Regions from separate parts of the Homo sapiens genome. Here region 2 is linked to region 1. The links come from fine-mapping of genetic effects on gene expression. Tissue or cell type: whole blood. Region 1 holds a variant in brackets; the other region holds the start of a gene. All regions are shown on one strand. Distances are from middle to middle.

Evidence for each region. PIP is the estimated chance that this variant, and not a neighbour inherited with it, causes the effect.
Region 2: SLC9B2 starts here. The variant in region 1 is fine-mapped to the expression of SLC9B2 in whole blood (INTERVAL, PIP 0.99).

What each region holds. Positions count from the first base shown.
Region 1 is chr4:102,745,366-102,753,474 of GRCh38, forward strand. All of the region lies in intron 1 of MANBA (mannosidase beta), which reads right to left. It also overlaps the pseudogene WDR12P1. Among named protein-coding and RNA genes, the nearest start is that of MANBA, 12 kb to the right of the region's middle. The variant T/C (reference allele first, on the strand shown) is at 4,245.
Region 2 is chr4:103,071,744-103,079,852 of GRCh38, forward strand. It overlaps SLC9B2 (solute carrier family 9 member B2), which reads right to left and starts at 5,018. Exons shown (of 12, transcript NM_178833.7): 1 at 4,441-5,018. BDH2 (3-hydroxybutyrate dehydrogenase 2) reads right to left here. Exons shown (of 10, transcript NM_020139.4): 10 at 5,849-8,012. The coding sequence ends at 7,959. RefSeq lists a silencer at 4,678-4,787 and an enhancer at 4,898-5,017.

The DNA of each region.
Region 1 (8,109 bases):
AGTGACTGTTGTTCCCACCGTTAGATCTGACATACAGAGAAGAGCAATTACAGGACTCTTCAGAGATGCAGTTGCCGCCATCACAAATCCATTTCGCAAAGCGTTGGTCAAGGGTGTATCTTCTGGACCCTCCCAGCTGGGATGGGTAGGTCCAAAGTGACCAATCCACTCCAGCATCCAATCTCCCTAAACTTTTGGATCCCTTCCTCTACATTAAACTGAGAGAGATCAGGCATTTCCAGCTTGCTCACAGTGGGCCATCTTTTATCCATATTTCAGCTAACCAAGCAAATAAACTATTAGAACCATTAAAACCTTTTTTAACTCCCTGAGCTGCAACATCAAAAGCAGAATCTCTACTTAGTGGGTTCAAATCAATAAGTCCAGCCTGATCCAACTCTATATTCCTTCCGCCATTATCTCACACCCTTAATATCCATTCCTATGACTCTTCTCCAGATTTCTGCTTATATAAATTAGAAAACTCAAGCAGTTCTTTTCTAGTGTAGCACATCTCCTCAAGGGTCACTCTGAACCTCACCTCTAGGGGTCTGCTGGGACTTTAGTCTAGGTATAGGTCTAGAAGCAAACAGGGGTGTTGGGGGTGGCTCCTGAGGAGAATCAACGTTATTTTGCCTGGCAACTGCCTCAGAGGAGGCCATCACTGTTGCCTCCAGGCAGCGCATGGTTTATCTCCTCAGACAAAGGTGGAAAGGCTGATGGCAGCATGTGTTGGGGAGGGGATGTTGCCACTACTGGGGATGAAGAAGCTGTTTCTTCTGGCAAAAAAGGTTCATCAGAGTTAACAAGCTCAGTGTCCCCAGCTTCATTAGGCCCTCCACCACACATCCCCATTCCAAGTTGCAGGGTCCCATTCTTTTCCAGTCAATCCCCTCACTTTAACAGTAGACACCTGGAAAGGCTGTGCATGCACCTTTCGTTGCAGGTCAGCCACTCACATGATAAGAGCTTGTGTCTATTTTTCCACAATTTCAGCTCTTTCTCTATAGGAGATAAGACTCTTACACAGGGTAATCTAGCAGGTGTGAGGCTCAGTACTACTTCTGAAGCTGAAAATGAATCCCTGAGCTCATCATTTTTCTTTCATCACTTTGTCCAGTGAACGTAGGAGCAACCAACCAGCTTTATTATGTTCCTTGGTTCTCCACATATGGTCAAAGGTATTATGTTTCAAGTCACTAAACTCCTTGCCTCTCACGAGCAGTGAATCAGGAGTATCAGATGCATTTATTTTGCATAACTCTCTAAACAGTTCATGCCAAGGACTATGGGTGTTCTCCATACTATTAGAAATAGAATTCTTAGGCCGGGCACTGTGGCTCACGACTGTCATCCCAGCACTTTGGCAGGCCAAGGCGGGAGGGTCATGAGGTCAGGAGATCGAGACCATCCTGGCTAACATGGTGAAACCCCGTCTCTACTAAAAATACAAAAAATTAGCTGGGCGTGGTGGCGGTCGCCTGTAGTCCCAGATACTTGGGAGGCTGAGGTGGCAGAATGCCGTGAACCCAGGAGTCAGAGCTTGCAGTGAGCAGAGATCGCGCCACTGCACTCCAGCGTGGGTGACAGAGCGAGACTCCATCTCAAAAAAAAAAAAAAAAGAAAGAAAAAGAACCTTTAGCATTTTTTGGTCTAATCACATTAAGCAGCCAACTCCAGAAACCCCAAAACCAATAAAAGAACTCCATCCTTAATATTCTGTTCCTCTAGAACCACTTCTGGTACCAAAATCTGTATTAGTCAGGGTTCTCTAGAGGGACAGAACTAATGGGATATATATATATATAAAGGGGAGTTTACTAAGGAGTATTAACTCACATGATCACAAGGTCCCATAACACGCCATCTGCAAGCTGAGAAGCAAGGAAGCCAGTCTGATTCCTAAAGGTGAAGAACTTGGAGTCTGATGTTTGAGGGTAGGAAGCATCCATCATGGGAGAAAGATAGAGGCTGGGAGGATAAGCCACTATAGTCTTTTCATGTTCTTCTGCCTGCTTTTTATTCTGGCTTTGCTGGCAGCTGATTAGATTGTGCCCATCCAGATTAAAGGCAGGTCTGCCTTTCCCAGTCCACTGAGTCAAATGTTAATCTCCTTTGACAACACCCTCACAGACACACCCAGGATTAGTACTTCGTATCTTTCAATCCAATCAAGTTGACACTCAGTATTAACCATCACAATGTTTCATTCAGAAGCTATAGTCTCCAAACTTCAGTTTCTCCTCTGTCAAATAGGATCTTCAGCTATGATTCTTACTTCAAAGGGTACACAGGTACAAGAGATCCCCAGCCCACGAGTCTGGCAACATGTTTTGGTCAGCCTTAACATTATCTTTTTCTAAAATCCTTAAATTAGTAAATATTGCTTCCCATCTAACATAGCTCTAAGTGAAAAAAGTTGCAGTTTAAGGAGAGTCCTAATTTTCTGACCAAAGAGACTAAAACTTAAAAGGGAAAACAAGACAAACTATTTGCTTGGCCCACTACAAGTCCCAGGCATTATGCAAGGTTTTCAAGGAGACACAGAGACAAGTGACACCTGACTGAAGTGTAGCGGTGGGGTTCCCAGGACTGGACCTCATGAAAGGTTAGAATAAATGCCTGCAGACAGATTCCTAGCTGATAGGAAGAGTCAGAGGAGATCACACTTGCTCAGGGAGTGAGGCTGGGCAGCTACATGGTTCCACTGCCTCTGAGATGAAGCCAGGAGGTGACTGGAGCTGACATGTGGAAGAGGCAGTTGGTGAAACCTTTTCTGCATGGGTTTGATCCCCAGCTTAATCCTAATACCTGTGAGTCTTTGTGAAGCTCAAAAAACATCTCTGTACACCTGTTTTCTCAGTTCTTGAATGGAGATAGTAATCATACCTACATGCCTCACAGGATCAGTACAAGGAGTGCATGAGACAATTATGAAGAGTGCTTAGAACAGTTCTTGGTACATAGTGTGCACTCAAAAATGATAGCTATCTTTTCTATTACATGTACTGATCTGAAATGATGTCTAAGATATATTAAGTTAAAGAAAAAGGTCAATATAAAACTATATATATATATAGAATGCAATCATCTGTGGGGGGAAAATACATGTATCTATATATGATATCTGTCTGTATATGTTTATAACATCTATGGAAGAATACACAAGAAACCGGTTAATCATGGTTGTTTCTATAGAAGGGAACTGGACCTAGAAGACAGGGATGCTTTTCATAACATAGCCTACCTTTAAAACTGTTTACTATTGGCCAGGCAAGGTGGCTCATGCCTGTAATCCCAACACTTTGGGGGGCCGAGGTGGGCGGATCACAAGGTCAGGAGTTCGAGACCAGCCTGGCCAACATGATGAAACACCATCTCTAATAAAAATACAAAAATTAGCCAGGTGTGGTGGCAGGCGCCTGTAATCCCGGCTACTCGGGAGGCTGAGGCAGGAGAATCACTTGAACCCAGGAAGCAGAGGTTGCAGTGAGGCGAGATCGTGCCATTGCACTCCAGCCTGGGTGACAAAGCAAGACTCCATCTAAAAAGAAAAAAAAAAACCCATTTGCTATTTATATCCTTTACCTGTTTCTAAATGTCATTAAGATTAATTTATCTCTTTTTTTAAAAAAAAGAAAACAATGAGCTAGGTTGATAGCGGTAGAAATGTTAAGGAATGGTTATAAGACAGTATAGATGGGACTTAAAAGATCCAGTACCTAACAACAGACGTGAGAAAAAAAAACAAAAAACTGTAACCAAGATTCTAGGCTTAGTTTCCTGAGAAAATACTTATGCTTTTATTATAAATAGGTAAAATAAGAGAAAGTAAGGGTTGGGAGAATTGAGAGAAGAAATATTTGGATATATGGAGTTTCATATGCCATGAAGACATTCAGGTAGGAGAGTTGAACAGAATTTCTAGCTGGAAATCAAGTGAGATGTGGTGGTTAGACACAAGCATTTCAGCAATTGTGGCACAGAAGTGATGGCTGAAACAAAGAGAATTCCAAGAGACGGAGAATACAGAAAGAAGTGATATATGAATTAACCCTGAGAAAATGTTTACATTTTTTGAGAGCTTTTAGCAAATGGGGTGCTTTTAGTGGCATATTTTGAACAAAAGTATATTGTACTCATGTCTCTATTTTCATCAGACACATTTAAATTAAAATAACTGTTCCATTTGTTTACTATTTACTGTTTCTGCCAATAGGCAGCGTGCAATGGTGAAAAGAACA[T/C]CGGGGTTTGAATCCTTGCTCCACCATCCATTATATGCATCATCTTAGGCAATAACTTTGCTGAGCCTCAGTCACTGTGAATTATTATACCTTTTCCAGAGGGTTGTTGCTGAAATTATATGAACAAGTGCACATGAAAGGGCCAAGAAAAGTGCATCACACGTGGAAGACATAAAATAAATGTTACATGAAAATGAATTGTATAGGCTGACTACATGCATTAATACTTATACATGATAAGGACCAGCCAACGCTTACCTAAAAATTTAGCTCTCAGGTGGTCCTTTGATTTTCAGTTCGGGGCCACGCAAAGCAAATCCTCCCATACCCTAAATACACCTCATGTGGCATCAAACAAGAAAGTATATGTCCAGGTTTAAGGATCAGGATTTTTTAAACTATCTGTTTTTTTTAAATGAGGGCTTAAAAACCTTGGACTTCTCTCTTCCCAGAAATTGAGCAACATTATTAATTGATGACTATTTCTGTTTAAATTAAATTTCAAATGCAGAGTCATTAGCTATTTTATCTCCTTAATGTCACACCTGATAGAAGCAGTCAAACTTTTTTTTTTAATTTTACTTTAAGTCAGTCAAACTTTTAGAAGAAGACATACATATCTTTAAAGGGTCATTTCCTAAAAAGCTTTTGAGATCATTTCACATCATAAAATGATCACGTAAAGCCAAATATTTCCTTAGTTTTTTTTTTATTTAAAAAACATTTTTTATCATTCTCAGTATTCAAACAAATATTTCATCCTTACAAGTCTTAAGATCTCTGTGGAAGGTTAGTATAACAACCAGAAAACCTTCTGTTTTGAGAAAAAATGTATGTTTAGTCATTTTGGATTATAATAATGGGACTCTCTTCTCTGAAACACATCAAAAATATTTCACAAGTCATAATGGTTCTGTGGTTATGTTGAAGAAAAAGGAACTCCCTATCTTTTAAAGACCCATACTGAAATGTTTGTGGATGAAATAATGTGATAACTGGGATTACTTTATAATACTAAGGGCGCCAGGAGCAGCGGTTCACACCTGTAATCCCTACACTTTGGGAGGCCGAGGTGGGAATATCGCTTGAGCCTGGGAGTTTGAGACCAGCCTGTGCAACATAGGGAGACTCTGTCTCTACAAAAAAGAAACAAATTAGCTGGGTATGGTGGTGTGTACCTGTAGTCCTAGCTACTTGGGAGGCTGAGGTGGGAGGATAGCTTGAGTCCAGGAGGTTAAGCCTGCAGTGAGCCATGACCACGCCACTGCACTTCAGCCTGGGTGACAGAGTAATACCCTATCTCAAAAAACAAAAAAAATGATAACAAAACAAAATAATAAGGGATGGCATAGTGGATAGAGAAGAAACAAAATTAGCCACGAATTGATCATGTTGAAGCCAGGTGATGGATACATGAAATTTCATTTTGCAAGTATCTCTATTTTACTATTTGTTTGAAATTCACCCAAAGTTTAACAAAATTCACATAGAAACTGCTTATTTGCTACTTAAAGAATACAAAAGTAGAATGTACACTGATGCACATATATTGTTAGAATGTACTTATGAGTGATAACCTGCAGATTGGAGACTCCATAGACAGACTCATGGCTCCTTAGAAAGAATGATTGTGGGTGGAGCAGACCCAAGGAGGAAAAGCAGAGTCCAGGCTTAGACTGCAGCTTCTCGCTTACCTGTGCAGTCTAATTTTGAGCGGCCTCTTTGTAGTTAAGAGACAGGAGCTCCCATTCTCTCTCTACTAACCCAAAAGTCTTGTGTGTACTCCTTGCCTTGGCTCAGCTCCAAACACATTTCTACACCGATAACAAGAAATATGCTGTAAATGATGTTTCCTTCTCAATCCCTGCCGCCTCTGAATTTGCTGACCTTAGTAACATCATCAATAAATTACTAAAGGACAAAAATGAGTTCCACAAACATATGGAGTTTTATTTCCTTATTAAGGGCCAGTTTCTGCGAATGTCCTTGGTCAAACACATGGAACTGGAGAACATGTCATCAGAAGTAGTTGTGGAAATAGAATATGTGAAGTACACAGCACCCCAGCCAGAGCAATGCATGTTCCATGATGACTGGATCCTTTCAGTTAAAGGGGCAAAGGAATGGATCTTGACTGGTTCTTATGATAAGACCTCTCAAATCCGGTCCTTGGAAAGAAAGTCAATAATGACAATTGTTGGACATAGGGATGTCTTAAAAGATGTGGCCTGGGCCAAAAAAAAAGATAGTTTGTCTTGCTTATTTGTGAGTGCCTCTATGGATCCAACTATTCTCTTATGGGAGTGGAATAGAGAGAAACAAAGTGAAAGCCCGACCGTGCTGCAGAGGTCATGCTGGAAGTGCAGAGTCTATAGCTGTTGATAGCTCAGGAACTAAATTTTGTAGTGGCTCCTGGGATAAGATGCTAAAGATCTGGTCTACAGTCCCTACAGAAGAAGAAGATGAAATGGAGGAATCCACAAATCGACAGAGAACACAGAGCAGCTATGACTCCCATAGTGACCCTCTCTGGTCACAAGGAAGCAATTTCCTCAGTTCTGTGGTCAGATGCTGAAGAAATCTGCAGTGCATCTTGGGACCATACAATTAGAGTGTAGGATGTTGAGTCTGACAGTCTGAAGGCAAGCTTTGACAGGAAATAAAGTGCTTAATTGTATTTCCCATTCTCCAACTTTGTAAACGTTTAGCATCTGGAAGCACAGATAGGCATACCAGACTGTGGGATCCCCGAACTAAAGACCATTCTTTGGTGTCACTGTCCCTAACTTCAAATACAGGTTGCGTGACATTAGTAAAATGGTCTCCTACCCATGAACAGCAACTGATTTCAGGATCTTTAGATAACATTGTCAAGTTGTGGGATACAAGAAGTTGTATGATCTGGCTGCTCATGAAGACAAAGTTCTGAGTGTAGACTGGATAGGGACACAGGGCTACTTTTCAGTGGACAAGCAGACAATAAATTGTATTCCTACAGATATTCACCTACCACTTTCCATGTGGGGGCATGAAAGTGAATGATAAATTGATCATAGAGATTCTTTATACAAATGAACTTGGTAGAAAATCATGAAATTATACTGATGCAGATGCAGAAAGCAGCCGTTTGAAATTTATATAATGTTTTCACTCTTCATAACAGCTAACATTTAACTATCTTTTTCTTATTTTGTATTTATAATAGTTTGTGTTTATAAAATAAAAAGAATGATTGTGACTAGCTTGTTAATCACATGTATAGCTACTATGATGTACTCTTACAGTTTATAGTTAATTAACTTACACATCTAAAATATATCTTTCTCTGGCCATTTGTCCCAATTGCATGTGAAGAATATAAGGTAATAATAAAATTTACGGAAAAAGTACTAAGTATCTGTTGCCTACCACTTTTTAGTATATGTGTATATTTATATACTTATAATTTTTATTTTCAAGTGTAGATTTTGAATAAGAACACATCTTTATAATGGGGTGTATGAAGCTATTTGCAATAATCCTGGATCTATATTTACAGACACAGACAAATATATTCATGATATGTTTTAAATGTTAAAGTAGCTAATAAAACCACCTTAGGGGATGATTTCATTTTTATGTTATATTTGTCTCTATATACTTAGAAAAAAATGTGGAAAGATAAACACTTTTTTACAGTGGTCTTTTTCTGCTTTATATTATGTGTTTTATTGGTTTTTCTTCCTTCTTTATATTTTCTGTATTTCTTTTATCCAATGAACACTACATAAATACGTATTTTTAAAAGAATTTTAATCATGTAACCTTTCTAAAGATTAAAAGAGAAGGAATAACAATATTATATCAGTATATGCGAATTTAGTGC
Region 2 (8,109 bases), 330 kb after region 1:
CAAGTGATCCACTGGCCTTGGCCTCCTAAAGTGCTGGGATTAGAGATGTGAGCCACCCTGCCTGGCCCTAATTTTAAATACATTTAAAAATAATCTACTCAATTCCTAAAGCTTTAGAGAAAAGAAAATGGTACCACATTTCTTGGTAATATTTCTCATAGATACAGTCTGGTGATTTGATTTGAGGTAACTTAATAACACCTGCCACAATTTAAAATCATTTTTTGTAGTTGTGATTTTTCAAAGAAGATGAGTAACTGCCCAGAATCACCAATAGCAGTGGTTTTCAAAATTTTCAAGTTTGGCTTTCATGTTTTTTTTTTTTTTTTTTTTGAGGTGGAGTTTCGCTCTTTTGCCCAGGCTGGAGTGCAGTGGCGAGATCTCAGCTCACTGCAACCTCTGCCTTCCGGTTTCAAGCTATTCTCCTGCCTCAGCCTCCCGAGTAGCTGGGATTAAAGGTGCCGGCCACCATGCCCAGCTACTTTTTCTATTTTTAGTAGAGATGGGGTTTCACCATGTTGGCCAGGCTGGTCTCAAACTCCTGACCTCATGATCTGCCCGCCTTGGCCTCCCAAAGTGCTGGGATTACAGGCGTGAGCCACCGCACCCAGCCCTGGTCTTCATATCTTTATGTCAAATATCTTTCATCAAATGAAACCTAATCCTTAAATCCTACAAATGGAACGACTAAGGTGGCGCTGCAGGAGCCCTGTCTACTCACCCCTGTTCCTTCTGGCAAGTGGAGCATACTTTGGAAACCATTTCTGTAAATATGTTTTCACATAGAGAGATATTTGTTAAATGTTCTCTTTTTCATATTATCTTACTAATGTAAATGTTTACAAGTACTTTCTGTAATATTCCAGAAGAAATAAAGGAACTATCAACTTACAAATGTCCGTAGGCTCTCGGTCAAGTAAAATAGACTTACTGCTATCATTTCAGTTACTGCTAAAAGATATGGATAAAGACTTTTTATTCTTGCTATTTGCTGCCTGTGATTTGGATAGGCTGACATTTAAAGGAGTAATCTTATGGAGAATTTACATATATTGCTTGCTATGGCTTGAATGTTTGTGTCCCTCCAAAATTCAGATTTTGGAATGTAACTGCCAAGGTGATGGTATTAAGAGGGAGGTACTTTGGGGAAGTGATTAAGTCACCAGCACTCAACCCTCATGAATGGGACTAGTGCTCTTATAAAAGAGGTCAAAGGGAGCAGCCTAGTCCCTTTGGCTCTTTCCCTTCCACCATCTGAGAACACAGCATTAGTCTCTTCCTCCATGTGAAGAAGACATGGCAAGAAGGCACCATCTTGCAAGCAGAGATCAAGTGTGTAACAGACATCAAATCTAATTAGCACCTTGACCTAGGACTTCCCAGCCTCCAGAACTGTGAGAAATAAATTTGATTATTTATAAATTAATTAGTTTGTGGTATTTTGTTACAGTAACAAAAATGGACTAAGACATTGCTAGAGTACTCTGGGTTGTATTCATGCCTTTGAAAGAGCATCACTATGATTGTTCAATACTCTATAATGATAATAATAACAACAATCTCCTGCCTTTGTGTTCATCCATTCATGTGTTGAACGTATAGGTTCTCAGTCTCATACAGTATTTCTACATAGAACATACAGAAACATTCCAGTTTCTGTATTTGCTTATCAACACTGATCTAATGGTCATTTCCCAAAAGGAGCCCTACCCAGCAATGAGGAATTCAGATCAGGCTCAGAGTAGGGCTTAACACTTTCTTAGACAATTAATTACTAAAATGACTAACAGTGTTTCCCTGAATGAGAACTACCTTATCTGAAAGACTTAGGTGTGTCAAATACATGTGGCCAAGTTACCAAAGGAAAACAACCGCTATTTTATTTGGTTAATTGATTTAGTAATTTCATTGACTCATGAAGGAAAACACTATATAATGAGATAAGAATAAAAGGAAATTACCCCTACATAAGGGACCCAATACTTGCTTTCATCCTTTCTATTCTCTCTCCTCACCAAAGTGAAATATACTTACTAAAAGTTTAAAATATTATTTCTAGGCCCACTAAAATCAGAATCTACAGAGACCGAATCTACCCCAAGTGGGACAGACATGACTTATGGCCTGTCTAAATGCCAAGTGTTCAGGTATGCCAGTAGGACCCTTCTCCCGCCCTAGGGATAAGTCATTATTGGTGTAAATCAATCTCTGTAACACCATTCCTCTTTGCCACTTATTGGCTAAGGAGTGAGCATGATTCATTTCTTGCCATTGGAATTTGTAGGCAAGACTATTGGGGCATATTACATAAGATTTTCCTTCTTAATAAAGACAGAGAGAGAGGAGGAAAATCCTCTCCTCTTTTTGTCTTTAAATGACCAGGTAAAGAGGCAAGGGAAGTTGGGATTGTGGATGGGTTTCTTGGGACAATTCTAGCAGCCATCATTCACCCATGAAGAAAAGTCAAGATTAGCTGAACACAGAAAGCAACATAGAGCCCTGATATTACTGAGCTACTGAACAAACCCTGGACCCACCTACCTTCAAACATCTTCATGTATGAGCAAAGTACATCTGTATTTTTGAAGGGAGTTTTGGCTGAATATCCTGTTACTTGCAGCCAAAAGCATCCTAACCAATATAACAGGTGATTTTGTTGCAGAACCATCCCTGAGAAGCCCTGATGAACAGCAGTGATGAGGAACCTCTGTCTTACAAACTTTAGTTTCTATCTTTCTAGCTTCTTGTTACAGTGCAAAATCATCATAGACAATGAATGATCAGAACACTGCCTTTGTATTGAAATTTCTCAAAAATGTCCAGAAAATAACATTTTATAAAGTTAAAAATTAGTGCCAAGGTTTTCACTGCCATTCTTTTAGTCAACAGAAATTATTTGGATTGTAAGATTATGTATTTCCCCTCCTCTACCCTGAAGTTAAATTGTAATATTTGAATACTGAATGAAGAAAAGTTGGACTTATAAACGTTTGGTTGTTTTCCAAATTTCCACTCATGAAACAAAACAACAACAATAAAATATCACTACTATTGCTGCCTGGAGTTTCATTTCTGCTTTTTCTACTTGAAGAAATTCAAAATCTAACTCAAATGTCACCTTCTCAGTATTTCCTAACTCCAACATTGACAAACTGTCTCCCTCGTTTTCCTCTCTGATGATTCATTCATTCATTCAACAAACAAGAGCTATTAAGCTCTTGTTACGTCCCAGTCCTTGAGCTGAGGATTCAGAAGTGAACGGTCTTAAATAGTTCCTATATTCAGATCTTGTAATCTAGTTACAGGATGATAAAGGATGATAAATGATTCCTAAGCAATCACAATGAAATATGGTTAAGTTTCAACTTTAGACACATAACAACCCCATCCCTTAACAAGTTTCATTTCCTTTTTTTTCTTTTCTGAGATGGAGTCTTGCTCTGTCACCTAGGCTGGAGTGCAGTGGCACAATCTTGGCTCACTGCAACCTGTGCCTCCTGGGTTCAAGCGATTCTTCAGCCTCAGCCTCCGGAATAGCTGGAATTACGGGCGTGCACCACCATGCCCAGCTAATTTTTATATTTTTAGTAGAGATGGGGTTTTACCATGTTGGCTAGGCTGGTCTCGAACTCCTGACCTCAGGTGATATGCCCACCTCGGCCTCACAAAGCCTTAACAAGTTTCTCTGGTGTGATAGGCACAAGAGTAACAAAGATGACTAAGATGCAGTCTGCCCTTTAAGGGATGGTCAGAGACTGATATGTGTTTACCAAAATCGTTTACTCTTCTGCCTGGGTCCATAGTACATTTCCAGTCTCCCTTGCAGGTCAGTGTGGCATGTGACTGAAGTCTGGTCAATGGCATGTGGACATAAATAGTATGTGATTTCCAGTCCTCACCCATAAGAAACAATCCTCATGCAATCCTCTAGTAGCTTTTCTTTTTCTGTCCGTTGCCTGGAAACTAAGGACTCCAAGGTCTTAGGGGATAGCAAAGCCATAATATAAAAGGAGTTTGGGTTCCTGAATAATTGAGTAGAAGGCCAACAGCTGAACACGTGAATGGACTTGACATGAACGAGAAATAAGCCTGAACTATGTTTAGTTACTGAGATGTTTTACTTTATCTCTTACAGCAGCTACTGCTGTCTTAAGGTTATATTCTTCAGTCAATAGCATACGATGATTCTTAGCACCTCGAGGATGCTAACCCAGTCCACAAAGGCAACACCCCCTCTGGTTAATCTGAGAACTAAAATAAAAGCAAGCAAGAAAACCCACGCCAACACCTTACAACAGTAAACAGACACGCGCCCGTCACCGGGTGTACAAACAGAAAAGGCTGGGCCCCTCGCTCGCGTCTCCGGTCCAGCAGGCCTACAGGGTACCCGCCGCTGGCGCTGGGTTTATTTTTACCCTTAGTGTCTCTGGGGCCTCTCACCTGGCAGTCTCCGGCGAAGTCGACCAGGCTCCGTCTGAACGATTAGGAAAGGGGCTGTGGGGGAGGCGGCGGAGCCCGGTCTAGCCACCGCGCTCTGGGGTTCCCGATTCGCGCATCTTCCCAGGCTGAGCCGGGAGGCTGCGTTGACTGCAGATAAACGGTCTCAGGGCGCGGCACCGCGTGTAGTCGGCCCCGCCTTTCGCACGAACCCGCTGGGCGACACCGCGCAGGGAGGTCCGACCCGTCGGCGCCGGTACAGGCTCCGGAGTAAGCATGGGTTGGTCCGGGGCCCGCAGCGGCAGCCCCGTGTGCCCTCCGCCGGGTTTCAGGTCCGGCGGCGCGGGTGCAGAGCCGCGTGCGATGCCTGGTGCGCGTGGCTTCCCCCGGAAAGGTGGCGCCAGGCCGACCATGGGCCCACGTCCCGGGGCCTCGGAGCGGCACCGCGCGGTCTTTCAGCTGCTTATCCTCCCTGGGCGGGTCCGCAGGCTTCTGGGGCCAGGACCAGCGAGCTCCCGGGAAAGCTTCCCGGAAAGCTTACCCAGAGAGCGCGGACCCAGGCGCCGAGTCTTCCCGGAGATGACGAGACACCGCGAGAGGAGCACAGCGCAGGCTCCTCGGGACTCCGCGGCGCAGGCCGGGCAGCCCGTTACTTGTTTTATCGTTCCCGAAACCAACCTCTAAGTTGTCTATCAGTCCTCCACCTTTTAGCTGTACCTCTTAGAAGTGTCTTCTCAGCTGCGGTGGGAAGATAGGATTCTTTCTTAAGGTGACCAATTAAATGGCCGGATAAAAGACTTGTTCTGCCCCCCTTTATCGCTTAACACCTGCCCTTCTTGTTGTATTTTAGATTTTTAACCCTTCTATCAGCAGTGTGATTCTATTTCATTTAATTCTCATTTCATGTTTGTGTCTTCCTTTTCTCTGTATTTCCTCTTGTGTGTGTTAAGACGCGCGCACCCCTTACCTGTTTTTCACTCCTGTAAGCAAGTGCCAATCTTAATCACCGCTTTTCAAGCAAGGGAGATTATCCTCAAATTTCTCCACCAGTCAGAAACCATTCATTCTTGTCTCTCAGGTCCTCTTTTGTGATGAACCTATTGGATAGGTTCCATCCAATACCCTTCTTCAGATCATCTGAAATGATTATTTTCCTAAACGGAACTCTTCCTCTCCTAAAGCTTGTAAAAATTTCTAGTGACATTCAGCTTCCTCTTACCACAGGAATGACATATATTTTTCCTTTTAGTCATATGTACTTCATTAATATATCACCTGATTTGATTAACATGACTTTGGAGAACATTGAATTTTTTGGCTAGATTTTACTTCGTTTTTATTGCTGATAGTGTTTATAAAAATGTTTTATAGTTTATGGTCGGCTGTGAGAAAGACTAACTCAGATCATTTGTTAATGTTGGAGCCCATTTTGTAGAATTCGTTGTGCATTTATTTAAAATTTATTTGTTCATAGCTATACATATATTATACATGTATACCTGCTCACAGCATAAAGTATTTCATGACATACTTGTAAGAGTCAGTGTTCTATGAATTCACTAGAGAAGTTACAGCATTTTGATTATGATACACGAAAAGAAACCCAAGTCATTTAGCTTAACTCCTTAATTTCATAAACCAGAAAACTAAAATCCAAGATAGATTGGGTGACTTGGTCTAGATCACAAACCAAAGTTAGCCATAATTCGGTAGTGTAGTGCCCGGTCCAAAACCTCATAGATAATCTTATAATCAATGGACTCTTTCTGAATGCTAGTCAAAATGTCCTTTTGTGTGAATTTTAATGTACCGTCATCAACTGCATGATATTCTTCCCCATACACAAAGTGTTATCTTTTTGTTGTCCATTTCAGAATTTTCCATGTTAATATTAAAGTTCTAGGAAAAAAGGCTAAGAATCACTGCACATTTATTGAGTATCTCAGTGTGCATCATACCATTTGGTCATTTGAGGTTGCAACAAGTAAAAAACAAACATAAAACCCTTAAATTAAAATAAAAACAAAAAACTTTGCCCTGACAATGTTACAGAATTAACATCCATAAATTTACTTTTCTTGAAAAATTTATTTTCTTTAATTTCGTTTGTTTCCTGTTACATAATTTATATTTAAATTTACATTTATTTATCCAGAAACTATGTCCAAATTTTATGTCCTCTTTTCTGTTATCCTGGAGTTTGGTGAAGAAATCTGTACTTAATTTAGAAAAGAAATCCCTCTAACTGACAATATTGTTAGCTAACTATATATTTCTTAGGCCCATGTCAAATATCATTGCTTATTTTAATAAAGATTGTTTAGTTAGACTAAGAAAATAGTAAATAATAAGGGATGGCATCCGTTAAGTATAAACACTGGATTATTTTTCATAACATAACAGGTCAACAATATCGTTTTGAGGCTGAACTCCTTTACTCCTTTTACTGTAAGCTATTGAAGCCAAACTCCTTCCTACCTTTGTTCATTTATGATGGTGTAAAATTTTAAAATTAGGATCTACATACAGAACAATGCAGAATTATATAAAAATATTTGAATATTGAAAAATGAAGTGGAAATTATTATTATTATTTAGGTACAGGGTCTTGCTCTGTCACCCTGGAGTGCAGTGGCATGATTACAGCTCACTGCAGCCTCAAACTCTTGGGCTCAAGTAATCCTCCTGCCTTAGCCTCTGTTAACCATGCTGGTCCTGAACTCCTGGCCGCAAGTGATCCTCCTGCCTTGGCCTCCCAAAGTGCAGGAATTATAGGCATGAGCTACCATGCCTAGTCCTGAAATTACTATCTTCTTCCTTAACCCCCATCTCCCCCACAAAAAAACAAAAACTTCCTTTTTTCTTCATATTTACATTTTAATTGTATATGCTGCAATGGCCTATTTGTATCACCCCAGAGTCATGTGTTGACATCCTAACCTGCAATATGATACATTAGGAGGTGGGGCCTTTGGGAGGTAATCAGGTCATAAGGGTAGTGCCCTCATGAACAGGATTAGTGTCCTTATAAAAAGACACATGAGCGCTCGCTTTTTTTCTCTGCTCTTGCTATGTGAGGATACAGCAAGAAGAGGACCATCTGCAAACCAGGAAGTGGGCCCTAACCAGAAACTATATCTGCTGGCACCTTTATCTTGCACTTCCTAGCCTCCAGACTGAAAAATAAATGTTTGTTGTCTATGACACTCCATCTATGGTAATTTGTTATAGCAGCCCAAAGTGACTAAGACAGATGCTAACAAATCGAGATTTATTTTAAAAACTATTCTCCTGCTATGAGTTCAATATTTTTATTTCTTTACAATGATTTCAGAAGAGATTACAAAGAGATTAATATACTTAAAGAATCAGACTCTTGCAAACAGTGACATCATTAAAAAGAGCTTATTTTCATTAACATGTGATTAACAGGAAGGAGATGATTGGTGAGTTTTCTTCGTAACCAGGTTCACTGTGGATAGGAAGGGCCTGCCTTCCTTCCCACCATGGAGATCCTAAAATCACAAGCTCCAGCCTCCATCAATGATGACAGGGTTACCAGTTACATAAGCAGACTGCAGTGATAAACACAAGGAGACAGAACAATTAACCAGGTTTGATACAGGCTGTATTTTGAAATTTTCCTGTGACTAGGATAACTAAACAATTTAC